Homo sapiens: one gene and its partner. The protein of the gene in region 1 interacts with the protein of each later gene in a biochemical or structural test. Each region holds a gene or a part of one and is shown in the gene's direction. Other genes may lie near its edges.

The links.
Region 2: the proteins of CCNB1IP1 (region 1) and UBE2L3 form a complex in vitro, tested with the Homo sapiens proteins (one study listed by BioGRID).

What each region holds. Positions count from the first base shown.
Region 1 is NC_000014.9:20,323,099-20,326,915, reverse strand, and holds part of CCNB1IP1 (E3 ubiquitin-protein ligase CCNB1IP1), read left to right. Parts: intron 1-122; 5' UTR 123-200; intron 201-376; exon of another isoform or gene 377-475; intron 476-1,262; 5' UTR 1,263-1,377; intron 1,378-3,589; exon of another isoform or gene 3,590-3,737; intron 3,738-3,817. UniProt on the Homo sapiens protein: Ubiquitin E3 ligase that acts as a limiting factor for crossing-over during meiosis: required during zygonema to limit the colocalization of RNF212 with MutS-gamma-associated recombination sites and thereby establish early differentiation of crossover and non-crossover sites.
Region 2 is NC_000022.11:21,570,679-21,574,495, forward strand, and holds part of UBE2L3 (ubiquitin-conjugating enzyme E2 L3), read left to right. Parts: intron 1-3,817. UniProt on the Homo sapiens protein: Ubiquitin-conjugating enzyme E2 that specifically acts with HECT-type and RBR family E3 ubiquitin-protein ligases.

The sequences.
Region 1 (3,817 bases):
AGTTAAATAAAGGATGAACGGTTACTCTAAATTTTCTTGTGACTTGGTATAGAACATGCTGGTGTGAGTTGTCATGTAATCATAACCTTTGTGAATTTATTTATGTTTTTTAAATTTTCCAGAAATGATCCTAGATAATTGATAGATCCTGTGGTTCAACTGGATTTCTAGATAGAAGCTGGATTCATGTGATGCCAGAGGTAAGAGTAAGAGCAAAATCTTCGTTTTTACCTCATTTGGATTTCTAATCACTTAGCAAGACTTGGGACTCGGTGTTATTAGTGGATGGAATTTGGTAATTAAAAAAAATCCCCAGTTCTAACCTTAGGAGAATTTTCCTGTTTAGGGATGAGGAGCCAGTGCTGGTTTGCCCTTCCTCAGTCATTTACAGTTTGCCATGATGAAATGCATGTTAAGTCCGTGTTTCAGCTGATCAGCCTGATTAAACACATGCTCTGAGCAGACTAAAGCTAGGGGCAAACACCTGCAATTGAATTCTGCTTGTTGGAATTCATACTGGGATTTAGTCTGTAATCCCAGGTAATTCTTAAATCTTAATAAATTATGAATTTGAGACTAATGTTTTGTTGTGCTTTGATCTTTTGTGATATCTCTATATCCCCAAAAAATCACTTTTGTGAGTTAGAACTAGGGTCAGGAATCATTAATCTAAAAGTTCAAACACTACAGAAAAAGCACTGGCAACTGGTATAATTCTATAGGCAATTTAGCCTGGCAGTTTTAAACTAATCATTATTTTATCAATCTATACATGTAGATTAAAGGAAACACAGAGTTGGTTAAATCAATTTTGTGAAGACTATACGGTACAACACTATAGAATCACTTAAAAGTTATGATACAGTTTTATGTTTATTGAAATAGAACGGTATTCATGACACATGAAAAACAGATTATATAGAGCAATATGTTTCTGCTTAAATATTTTTATATGCATATGTTTGCTTAAGAAAACTGAAAGGACATATATACTAAAATACTAGGGGGTTATTTTCTCTAGAATTGGGTTCTACAAGTAATCTTTTATTATTATAAACCTATTTTCTAATTTTATTGTATTCATGTATTGTAATATTTTAAAAGTTATTTTAGGTAACTTAGGACAAGCTTATATTCTTTACCCGTGCCTGCATTTTCAGCAGAGAATTAGGTAGAAAGAAGGGTGAAATACAGGAAATACAAACAACTCAAAGTAACATCAGGACTTGAAATAATTTTTTAGCTTTTGTTGTCTTTTGCAGGAGTAAAATTTCAAGAGACTGAAACCAGATCTGAGTTTCGCTGTTCCAGTCTGGACCTCTTTGGTGCTGTAAATCCTGGATATACTGTAGATGAGTACTGCGTTTTTCTTTTATGGTAAGGCTTACGTTGAGATTGAGAAGCTTTGCCATATATATGAGTCTTTGAAAATTCAGGTTTGTGACTTCATGGCCAGCTGCTAAGGTGCTATAAATTTCACTTTTTTTTTTTTTTTGAGACGGAGTCTTGCTCTGTCGCCCAGGCTGGAGTGCAGTGGCGGGATCTCGGCTCACTGCAAGCTCCGCCTCCCGGGTTCACGCCATTCTCCTGCCTCAGCCTCCCAAGTAGCTGGGACTACAGTTGCCCGCCACTACGCCCGGCTAATTTTTTGTATTTTTAGTAGAGACGGGGTTTCACCGTTTTAGCCGGGATGGTCTCGATCTCCTGACCTCGTGATCCGCCCGCCTCGGCCTCCCAAAGTGCTGGGATTACAGGCGTGAGCCACCGCGCCCGGCTAAATTTCACTTTTTAAAAGTCAGTTGAGGCCAGGCGTGGTGGCTCACACCTGTAATCCTAGCACTTTGGGAGGCCGAGGTGGGTGGATTGTCTGAGCTCAGGAGTTTGAGACCAGACTGGCCAACATGGCAAAACCCCATCTCTACTAAAAAAATACAAAAAATTATCTGGGCCTGGTGGTGTGCGCCTGTAGTCCCAGCTACTCAGGAGGCTGAGGCTTGAACCCAGGAGGTGGAAGTTTTAGTAAGCAGAGAGAGCGCAACTATACTCCAGCCTGGGTGATAGGGAGATTCCGTCTCCAAAAAAAAGAGTCAATTAAAGATGTTGAGAAGTAGCATTGTATAGTATATATATGGGTTCTGGAGTCAGACTGAGTTCAAACGCATGCTCTATCACTTCACCAGTTATGCAGCATTGGCAAGTTTCCTAATATCTATGTCTTAGTTTTATATTTTAGAGGATGGCAATAGTATTTGACTCAGGGTGGTTATTTTGAAGATTAAATTAGTAAGGGTGTGGGTAAAGCATACGGTAAATGCTCAGTTTGATGTTAACTATTTGTCATCAGAATCCATGCGTATATTTCTCTTAGATTCTGTACTACCTGGCAATTTTTGACATCTGCATAATAGATTGACGAAAATTCTTTGTTTTGGCCTGACGTGGTGGCTCATGCCTGTAAACCCAGCACTTTGGGAGGCGAGGTGGGCAGATCACCTAAGGTCAGGAGTTCAAGACCAGCCTGGCTAACATGGTGAAACCTCGTTTCTACCAAAAATACAAAAATTAGCTGGGTGTGGTGGCGTGCACCTGTAATCCCAGCTACTTGGGAGGCTGAGGCAGGAGAATCGCTTGAATCTGGGAGGCAGAGGTTGTGGTGAGCTGAGATCGCACCACTGCACTCCAGCTTGGGTGACAGAGCTAGACTTCGTCTCAGAAAAAAAGAGGAAATTCTTTGTTTTTATTGCTCATATATCTTTCTGTTAATTAGACTACCCCTCATTACCTTCACCCCGCCCCTCAAAACTTAATTAAGTTCTAGAATTAGTCATAGGCACTATAATGTGTATCTTTATATAATTGTTGGAATAACATTTTCTTTAGTTGGTTAATCTTGATTTTGGTACTAACTTGTTATCTAGTTCCTCATTTTCCCTTGCTGGATCAGTTGATCCTTAATGATCTCTTCTAGTTCTTACTTTTTTTTTTTTTTTTTTTTTTTGAGACGGAGTCTCGCTCTGTCGCCCAGGCTGGAGTGCAGTGGCACGATCTGGGCTCACTGCAAGCTCCGCCTCCCAGGTTCACGCCATTCTCCTGCCTCAGCCTCCTGAGTAGCTGGGAATACAGGCGCCCGCCACCACGCCTGGCTAATTTTTTTTGTATTTTTAGTAGAGACGGGGTTTCACCGTGGTCTCGATCTTCTGACCTCATGATCCACCCGCCTCGGCCTCCCAAAGTGCTGGGATTATAGGCGTGAGCCACCACGCCCGGCCTCTAGTTCTTACTTAGATGTAATGATTCCTATCTTATAAGAGTCTCTTGATGTCTTCATTTTTTTTTTTTTGAGACAGGGACTCATTCCATTGCCCAGGCTGGAGTGCAGTGGCATAATCAGGGCTCACTGCAGCCCTGGCTTCCCAGCCTCGGGTGATTCTCTCACCTCAGGCTCCCAAGTAGCTGGGACCACAGGCCACCATGCCTGGCTAATTTTTTGTATTTTTTTGTAGAGATGGGGTTTTGCCATGTTGCCCAGGTTGGGATGTCTTTATTTTTTATAAACGTTTCTTAAATTAATGTGGTTGGAGTTAAACTTTGATGGCTGTTCCTCTCACTGCTTGAAGCCTTAGGCAGTGGGATTTTGATCCATCATATATCAAAAATGGCTTATCTTCACTCAGGGCACCATGAGGATGGGCTGGCTGTCCGTTAGTGCCTTCTGATTTTTGCGGAGTCAAACAATTACTAAACGGGTGGTGATTCCAGATTAAGAAAATGTACCTGTGATTAAAAAAATAAAAGAAGCAGCCTAGTTTCAAAACAC
Region 2 (3,817 bases), on another chromosome or scaffold:
TGTGAGAATCAATGTTTAAGACTGTTTTTTTTTTCTTTTAAAGGAAGAAAAATTATTGATACAAGTTGATAAACAGTCTTTTCAGTACATAGGGTGGTAATAAAGTGATTTTCGTTGGTGAAAAGTTGGGGCTTAGTGCATGGAACAGTGCCTTAGGCATAGCAATCTAGCAAATGTTGAATGATCAAATTAATTACATCTTAAAGAACTTTAGATTTCTGTTAAAAATGTTTTCTAGGACATTCCACAGCAAAGATTTCTTTGTAACAATGGACTGTCTGCAGATAGTGTAAAACACATTATTAAAAGTAGAGTGATTTACATATACTACACTGAGAAGTTATTTTAGGCAAAGTGAGTATGATAAAGTCTTTTATTTCAAAAGCACTTGCCAGGAGGCTTAACCTCTTTTAGAAGCCTTTTTAGGAATTACAGTGTTAATAAAACATTAAGTACATTTTAATTTGCAAGCAGCTAATTTAGCATTGTTGGCTACAACCAGATTGTAACCATTGCTTCAATCAGGATGGGGAAATTGCTGCAAAAGCCAAAAGTGAAACCTTTATGTGTGGCTTAGGCAACTGATTGCCATCTGATCATTTCTTTGCAGCTTCACACTGCACACATTTCCCCTAAGGGCCCTCCTGTTGAGTAGCTTCCCAGAAGGGCTTTTCTCAGAGGGGAAATCTGTGGATTTAGAGGGGTGTGTGTGTAATGTCTTATTACTTATCATGACATAACTGTTGAGTTAAGGAGTTTCACTCTTGTTGCCCAGGCTTCAGCGCGATGGCACGATCTCTGTGCACTACAACCTCTGCCTCCCAGGTTCAAGCGATTCTCCTGCCTCAGCCTCCCAAGTAGCTGATACTATAGGTGTGCACCACCACTCCCTGCTAATTTTGTATTAGAAAGGAGGTTTCACCATGTTTGCCATGCTGGTCTCTAACTCCTAACCTCAGGTGATCTGCCCGCCGAGGCCTCCCGAAGTGCTGGGATTACAGGTGTGAGCCACTGCGCCCAGCCTAATGCTATTTAAAAATGTTCACTCAGAACTTCATATTGTTATATTTTCTCCCAGTTCATAGTCATAGTAGGAGGAACCTCTAAAAGTTCATTCCTTGGGTTTCGTTGTATTAAGCAGTGAGGTAGTTTGCTTTTGAGTATAGGTTTAGATTCTGAGGTTGGGTGATTAAGGAGATAGAGCAATGAGTATGTCACATGTTTCAGGAGGTGAGGGGAGTTTTATATGTGATGTTATGCCAGTGTAAATGTCCTGAATCCACTGAGGCTTTGTGAATTGAGAAAAACGTTGCGTCTTTTTTTCTAAATTCATGCATTCCAGTAAGTTGGGACTGTTTCAGCCTCCCTTAATGGTATTCTTTGTAAATGTTTGGGACAGGTGATGGGAAGGAGTATACTCAATTATTGCAACATTTGGGACCTTTTAAGGTATTTACTAGAAAACTCTGAGGCAGGCCAGGCGTGGTGACTCACACCTGTAATCCCAGCTCTTTGGGAGGCCGAGGTGGGCGGATCATGAGGTCAGGAGTTCGAGACCAGCCTGGCCAACATAGTGAAACCCCCGTCTCTACTAAAAATCCAAAAAATTAGCTGGGCGTGGTGGTGGGTGCCTGTAATCCCAGCTACTCGGGAGGCTGAGGCAGGAGAATTGCTTGAACCCGGGAGGCAGAGGTTGCGGTGAGCCAAGATTGTGTCATTGCATTCCAGTGCGAGACTCCGTCTCAAAAAAAAAAAAAAAAAAAGAAAACCCTGAGACAAAAACTCTTGTCTCAGGGTACTGGGGCCTTTTCTGATCTTGTTAAAACTCTAAATTAGGAGACTGTTGCTTTAAAATTTTATTATAAGAGGACACTTGAAAGTATTCTCATTTTATTGGAACATTTATTACGTTTAAGATATTTCTATATTCTTTGCTACAGCAGTAAATGTGAGAGCCACATTTCTTTGCAGCTTCACACTGCACACACACTGCACACACTGTGCACATTAGAGAGCCACAGAGACGTTCCTCCTGAGCCAGACTCCAACCACTTCCAGAGTTTTCTTGGGAACGGCACATAGATCTGTAGGCATCTGAGTCTTAGCTCCTCCTGTGACTCTCTCCCTCTGGCCCCATGCATCTCCTCCTGTCCCACCTTAGTTAATGGTTCACTTGTCTACTCAGTTGCTCAAGGAAAAAACGCCAGCGGAGCCCTTCTCGGCTCTTCCTCCCTTGTCTAGTCACCTGGCGGATTCTGCTGAACTATGCCTTCAGTCTCTCTTCTCTGCCTGTCTTCTCTCCATCCCCACTCCCACTCCCAATGCCACTGCCACTCCCACTGCCTCAGTTCAGGCCATCCCTGTTTGTGGTAGACACCTGCATCGAGCTCCTTAATGGTTCATCTAAACTCCTTACTGGTCAGCGCACTCTCTGTCCCACACTACTCCTAACCAGCAGTGCATCAGAGTAGTGTATGGTGTGGTGTGCAGTAGAGAAGTGCACATGAGCAGGCCCTGCTCTCAGAGATTGGAGCAGAATTTAGTAGGGTGAGGATGAGGCTGGGACTCTGGATTACAAGTGCACATTCCTTAGCTTTTTCCTTCAAGGTCTTGTCTCACCAGCCTTGTCTCTCCCCACTTGCCCGTTGAGTCCCCTAAAAACAGCATGCTTTGCACACACACTCTGGATCTCGTGATTGGCATCCCTGTCTCTTCTCTGTACCAGGGTAACTTTTTGACCTTTGAGACTCAGCTCAAGGGGCAATTCCTCTGCCCTTGAGGAGCTCAACAAAGGAGAAAAATGGCACGTACCTGGAACAAAGAAATCCTGGGCTGGCCACTGTGTGCTAGATGTCTGCCACCTGAATAATGGCTTGCAGGAGAGGGAAAGACCCCCTCTGACACTGAGGAGGAGGTCGAACTTGGCCTGGCCCTTTAAGCACGAGTAGGGTTTCAGCAGTTGAAGAAGACGGACTGGGTGGCCAGTGAGGTTGAGTCTCTCTCATCCCTCAGGAGGGCTGTGGGCAGTGCCTATGGGAAATGCTTTGAGGAGCCCCAGAGACCATCTGCCTACTCCCCAGTGCTGCTTGCGTCTGACCTTGTGCCGTCCCGCTTTGGGTTTTAGTTAGGCCAGCCCCTGAGATGCTTTCCAGAAGTGTTGAGGCATTGGCTTGATTTTACCCCAGATTGGCATGTCCAGTGCACCTGGTTCCTCCAGAGCTAGGAGACCTCCCTCTGCCAGGCCAGCCTTGGAGGGTGAGCTACCTCTCTATAGAGGGGTCACTGAGGGCAGTGCTGATGGATTTAAGGACAGGTGGCAGAGATGCCATAGCCTTTAGGTTGAGGGGCCAGATCTACATATCTCCTGGATGCTACAGCTATCCAGGAGAAGTGGCATGCCACTCACTCAGAAAGGGCTTTGCATGTATCTCCTGTGGCCAGCTTCATCATGCCTGTTCTTGGGGGACATAAATAAGCCTAACCTCCCCAAGCCCCCCACCCCTATAAGAAAGGGAGGAAGGGGCTTTTGCTCAGAGCAAAGCTGTTTAGAGGAAGACTACAGCATAGCAGTTAAAAGCTCAGGTTCTGGAGTTTCAATCCTGGGCCTGCCATGTCTTAGCTGAGTGACCCTGGGCAAGTTACTTTACCTCTCTGTGCCTTAGTTACTTCGTCCGTGTGTGAAGGTTAAATGAGTTAATATATACCAACTGCTTAGAAGAGTGCCTGGCATATAGTAAGTGTGAGCTACTTGTAGATATTATTGGGAATAACCAAGACATGTTCCAGGGCAGGGAGGTGACCAGCCTGACAGGAGGGG